Linked DNA regions of Homo sapiens: region 2 is linked to region 1. Evidence: fine-mapped expression QTL. A gene starts in region 1. The other region holds a variant in brackets. All regions are shown on one strand. Distances are between the middles of the regions. Region 1 holds the start of ADAP1 (ArfGAP with dual PH domains 1). Region 2 overlaps ADAP1 (ArfGAP with dual PH domains 1).

Region 1 (2,891 bases):
TGATGCCACAGGGCACAGATCCCAGAGACACAGACCAAAACGGGCTGCCGCGTTCTGCTTCAGGTAGACAGAGCTTAAGCAGCTCCATGATTCCACGTCAGCTGGAGCAGGGGGACAGGTGCCTTTGGTGGCACTCTGGTCAGTGCAGCCTCAGTGGAGGCCATTCCACATCCCATACCATTGCCCCAGCGATGCCACTTTGAGAGCAAATCCACACAAAACTCTTGCAAAGATGAGGTTGTGTAGACCATGATTCTGATGCATTCAAAACGCTCTAAATGCCCCTATGCCAGTGACTGGGTGAACAAGTCATGGTTCAGTTGAACTTTTTTTGAGTTTGTTTGTTTGGTTTTTTTTTTTTTTTTTTTTTTTTGAAACGGAGTTTCACTCTTGTTGCCCAGGCTGGAGTGCAATGGCGCAATCTCGGCTCGCTGCAACCTCTGCCTGCCAGGTTCATGCGATTCTCCTGCCTCAGCCTCCCAAGTAGCTGGGATTGCAGGCATGCGCCACCACGCCTGGCTAATTTCTTTGTATTTAGTAGAGACGGGGTTTCACCATGTTGCCCAGGCTGGTCTCAAACTCCTGAGCTCAAGTGATCCACCCGCCAGGGTCTCCCAAAGTGCTGGGATTACAGCCGTTAGCCAAAACCCTGTCTCGATAAATGAATAAATAAATGAAAGGCTACAGGCCTCAGACGTTCGTTCTGGAAGGTGCTGAGGAATTTGTTAACAGTGGTTGCCTGGAAGGCAGTGGGGAGAGGCTTTCCTTTTTCAGTCTGGTATGTTCCAGTTTGTTTTCAGCCGGGTGTACTGCATTAACCCTGCAAGAAGAAAATGGAAAGAATTTGAAAAGATGCTGGGGTGTGCAGAGGAAGGGCACGCGAGTCTGGGAAGAGGTGACATCAAAACCAGGTTTTTTGTTACCTGTCAGCCCCCATGTGAAGTCCCGGCGGGGCCCCTCAGCCTGCCTGAGTGGGAGGGGTGCCCAGAGGGTCCCATCTGTGGGTGGTGGGCGGCTGGGTGGGTCTCAGGGGGAGGCTCCGTCTGGGCCCTGTGTGGCCTCAGTGCCCTGGGACGCTGGCGTTTGTCACCTGCTGGCCGTCCCTCCCAGGCAGGGATGGTGTGAGCGCCCTGGTCCTGGTCCGTAGCACAGGACACGCACACCTGCCTTCCACGAGCACCCCCATGCCCATGGTCTTGGGGGGCTCGGCAGGTGCCCTCTGCGCCCCCCACAGTAGGTGTGCAGGCTCCGTCCCACCGCGCGCGGCGGCACGAGGGTCCCACCCAGGCCGGCCAGGTTTTGGGGCGGCCTCGCGCCCAGGCAGGTGGGACGCTGCGCGCGGATGGGGGGCGGGCGGCGGGCGATTTCCCAGCGGGTCCCCGGGGCGCGCGGGCTGGGGGCGCCGGAGCGGCCGAGGGAGGAGGCCACACGCTCGCCTGCACCGCTGGGGGCCGCCCGCGGGCCTTGCCGGCCAGAGCGCAGCGTGCGCCCCGGGCCCCGCGCCGGCACTCGCTCAGCGACCGCGGCGGAGACACGAGCGGCGGCGGCGGAGCCCAGAGGGCGGCGGGAATGCGGAACCGGCGCGCGGGCTGAGGCCGCCCGGGATGGCGCAGGGGCGGCGGCGGCGGGCGGCCTGCGCGGGGCCCTAGCGAGCCGGGCTGACGCTCCCGGCCCCGGCCCCGGCATCGGCATCGCGGGCGCATCGCGGCCATGGCCAAGGAGCGGCGCAGGGCGGTCCTGGAGCTGCTGCAGCGGCCGGGGAACGCGCGCTGCGCGGACTGCGGCGCCCCGGGTAGGTGTGGGCCGGGTGGGCGCGGGGCCGGGTGGGTCCGGGGTGGGCGCGGGGTGCCGGGCGGGTCCTGGGTGGGCCCCGGGGACCGGGCGGGGGAGCGCGGACGCCGCGGGGGTGGCGGCGCTGAACACCGGGCCGGATCGGCGCTCGGATGGGGCCCGGGCCCGGCTGCACCTGCGGGGACCCGGACGTCTTCCCGGGCCGGGCGCAGCGGGGGGGCCCCCCCCAGGACCCCCGGAAACCCCCCTGCCGCCGCCTCCCCTCCCCCGCCGGGCTGCGTGTCTGACGGTCACCGCGGACCGCCCGCCGCGTTGCGAAAGCTCGGGCTCCGCACAGAAAGAGGAAATCGGGGCTGGCTGCAGGGAGGGAACGGGCCGCCAGCCGGAGGTCTCTGCTGGGCTGTGGGGTCCGCCGGCTCCGGGGCCACCTCGCGGTGACGTCATGCCTCACGCCCTTCCCGCACCGGGGGTCCCTGGGTGTGAGCGGCGCCCCTGCCCCCGGCTCCCTGCACCTGGCTGCTCCGGGGCGGGCGCCAGGACAGGTGAGGCCTGGGAGAGGTGGGGCCGGACGCAGGTCCTGGTCCACCCGCCGCCCGCCCGTTCGTTCTCCCGGCCGGGCATCCCTGACTCGGTTCCCAGGTCTGTGGGATTTCAAGGCACTGGAGTCCAAAGGCGCGGAGTCCCTCCCTTCCAGGCCACTGGTCCTGTCATTGGCTGTGAACGGGGCCCAGTGCCCAGACCAGCCCTGCCCTGCTCGGGAGCTGTCAGCCCCAGGCCGGCTGCGCTGTGGAGAGAGGGCCCCGCCGGAGCAGTCCCGCCACCCCAGGCACACCAGGAATCTGGGGGCCAATAGTCTAAGCCCCTCGGAACAAACCTAAACTCACCGGCGGTGACTGAGGCCCCCAGGGAGGGAGCGGGGGAAGACCTTGCATTTGCCTCCAAGGCCCTGGTTCAATATGCAGCCTCTGGACACCCCGGAAAAAGGGGTGTCCCTGATTCCCTCTGGGATGGAGGGGTCTCTGCCAGCCCCAGGTCGTGGTGGCTGCTGTCCAGCTGCAGCTTGGCTGGAAAGGCCACATCAGGAGCTGGGGTGTCCCAGA
Region 2 (2,891 bases), 44 kb after region 1:
CGCTGAGCCAGCAGGGCTCCCCCACCCTCTGCGCCGCCTCCCTGGGCCAAGGTCACTGCGTGGGGACGCGCCGCACCCCTCCCCCAGATGTGGGGGTTTATCCTTGTGTCTGAGCCAGACTTGCCCCCCGCCTGCCCCTGGGGGTGACCCTGGTGACAGCTGCTCCCACCGCGGGCTGGCCCCGCCTCGGGCCGCAGCCTCAATGGCGGCTTTCACAGGGGCCTGGACAATGCCTCATGTTGTCCTGAGGGCCAGGCCCTGGTCTCGCTGAGACGCGGGGCTTCCTGCTCTAGGCTCCGGACCCCGTGCTCCTGTCGGAGCTTCTGTGGTTCCCCTGTGGTTCAGGACGGCCCCTCCTGGTGGTACCAGGCAGGGATGGGCCGACCGTTGCCGTAAATGTCACAGGGCAGACGGAGCCCAGGAGGGGGCTGGGGCTGTGCACGAGGTCTGGGGCCTCGGTTTCCCCGTCCATATAGTGGGGACGATGGTGTGCGGCACGAGGGCGCTACTGGGAACATCACCAGCCGTTCCTCGCAGGCAGCGCGAGGCTTTACGTGGCCCATGAGGGGACGGGTGTTTGGGGCCAGGCCAGAGCTGTGGGGCTGCCCCTCGGGGGGACGGGTGTTTGGGGCCTGGCCAGAGGTGGTAGGGCTGCCCCATTGCCCCTCTCTGGGTGGGTGTCGGCTCCTGGCCCTCCGTGGGTCCCCCGCCCCCTTCCTGGCCCTCCGTGGGACCCCCGCCCCCTTCCTGGCCCTCCGTGGGACCCCCGCCCCCTTCCTGGCCCTCCGTGGGACCCCCGCCCCCTTCCTGGCCCTCCGTGGGACCCCCGCCCCCTTCCTGGCCCTCCGTGGGACCCCCGCCCCCTTCCTGGCCCTCCGTGGGACCCCCGCCCCCTTCCTGGCCCTCCGTGGGACCCCCGCCCCCTTCCTGGCCCTCCGTGGGACCCCCGCCCCCTTCCTGGCCCTCCGTGTGATCCCCGCCCCTTTCCTGGCATGTTTGTCTTACAGGAGTCAGGGTTCGCTGTTCTTGGGCGCTGGGGCCCCTGTGTGGGGGCCTCAGGGTTTGGGGCTTGGGGAGGGGGGTACCCTGGGGCTGACTTGGCCCTGAGGGTGGCCCCTCCTGCAGCCTGGGCAGCCTGGCGGGGATGGGGGCATCCACACGTCACTCTGGGCAGGAAGGCGCTGTGGAAACTGTGAACCCGTGTGTGAGTGGGGGGGTCTCTCCAGGCCTGTCGGGGGCCGGGCCCCATGCTGGGGGCTATATGAGAATAGGAACAGGGTGAGAGCTGACCCCAGGAGCCCTCGTCCACCCTCTGGCCTCACCCCTGGGAACAGGGAAGCCTCCCTGTCCTGGCTGTTTGGAGAGAGAGCTCCACGCAGGGCGAAGCTGGGACCTGGAGCCCTCCGCAGGATACGGCCCGCTGGTTCTCAGCCTCTGCCGGCCCCAGACGCACCAACCTGGAGAAGGTGCATTAATGGGTCGGAGAGCGTGGGTGGACGGGCC[A/G]GGCAGGGAGAGACGGAGCCCTGTGCGGGCTCACAGAGGAGGCCTTCAACTCTAAGGCCTTACCCAGCAAGGAGACACTGCTCTGCCGTGGGCTCCGGTGTTTGCCTCCTGAGGGAGGGCAGGAGCCACTAGGACCCAAAGGCCGGAAGCCAGGTCCAGGCCCTTCACAGGGACGGCCGGGGTGCAGTGATCAGGGCCTCGGCCCCGTTCTCAGAGGCCACCCATCCATGGTGCACCCCTCCCTGTGGAAGGCCAGAGGCCCCATGAGATATGGGGATGCAGTTCCCACCCCAGAGGGTCCACCACCCTGTGAGCTGTCACTCAGAGCAGGGCCACGTGCTTCCCTGCCCCAGTTTACAAGACAATTAGCATATAAATCACATACGTGAGGTGTGATTTACATCTACTTTGCATATCCTATTTAGAGTGCAGTCCCAGCTCTGACAAATCCAAGACCCAGCAGTCTCGGGCCAGGCGTGGGGCTCACGCTGCAACCCCAGTATGGTGGGAGGAGAGGCAGGAGGGTCACCTGAGCTCAGAAGTTCGAGACCAGCCTGGGCAACGCAGTGAGCTCCCATCTCTACAAAAAAATACAGAACTTAGCCGGGTGTGGTGGCGTGCATCTGTGGTCCCAGCTACTCGGGAGGCCAAGGCTGGAGGATCACTTGAGCCCGGAAGGTCAAGGCTGCAGTGAGCTGTGATAGTGCCCCTGCACTCCAGCCTGGGTGGGGAAAAAAAAAAAAAAGCCTCGTAAACGGGTGTGGGCTTTATGTGAAGGCTGTTCCTGTTTCCTCGGATTTCACTTCTCTCTGAGGCACGTGATGTGCGCGCTTCACTGTGGTGGAAGAAACGGCCTGGCTGCTTTCCAGGGACTGGGGCACCTTACATCCCCACGGGCAGCGTGGAAGGGCCGGCGTCCCCGCCCACAGTCGGGCGCCTGTGTGTGCACACTGGTTTGGTTTTGCCGTTCTCGTGGGTCATGGCGATGCTGAACGTCTTTCCTGCTCTTAGCCGTGCGGTGGGCAGAAGGGCTCCTCAGAGGCGTCTGAGCAGGGCATGGGGTGTGGACTGGACCCAGCTCCCCACAGGTGGGACAAGACCTGGCACACAGTGGGACCGGCACACAGTAGGGCCTGGTGTGCAGTAGAACCCCCCCCACCCCACACCATAGGACCCGACACACAGCGGGACCAGCTCACAGCAGGGCGCGGCACGCGGTAGCTGTTTGATAAATACTGGTCGAGTCCTGCCCCAGGACTCACGAGTCCTTTAAGAGAAAATGGCCATTTCTGGCCACAGCCCACCCGGCTGTCCAGGACGCTGCCGTGTGAGGGGCTGCTCTGTGGGGAGAAGCCCCGTCTCACTGGCTGTTGCTGGTGCCGACTGGG

The links. PIP is the estimated chance that this variant, and not a neighbour inherited with it, causes the effect.
Region 2: its variant is fine-mapped to the expression of ADAP1 in whole blood (INTERVAL, PIP 0.99).

What each region holds. Positions count from the first base shown.
Region 1 is chr7:953,297-956,187 of GRCh38, reverse strand. It overlaps ADAP1 (ArfGAP with dual PH domains 1), which reads left to right and starts at 1,508. Exons shown (of 11, transcript NM_006869.4): 1 at 1,508-1,792. The coding sequence starts at 1,711. LOC124901569 (a long non-coding RNA gene) reads right to left here and starts at 1,334. Exons shown (of 2, transcript XR_007060178.1): 1 at 924-1,334; 2 at 698-820. RefSeq lists enhancers at 615-1,224, 2,447-2,891 and silencers at 1,202-1,301, 1,157-1,312, 1,332-1,821, 2,112-2,321.
Region 2 is chr7:909,628-912,518 of GRCh38, reverse strand. The region is part of intron 4 of ADAP1 (ArfGAP with dual PH domains 1); the gene reads left to right. Among named protein-coding and RNA genes, the nearest start is that of GET4, 35 kb to the right of the region's middle. The variant A/G (reference allele first, on the strand shown) is at 1,504.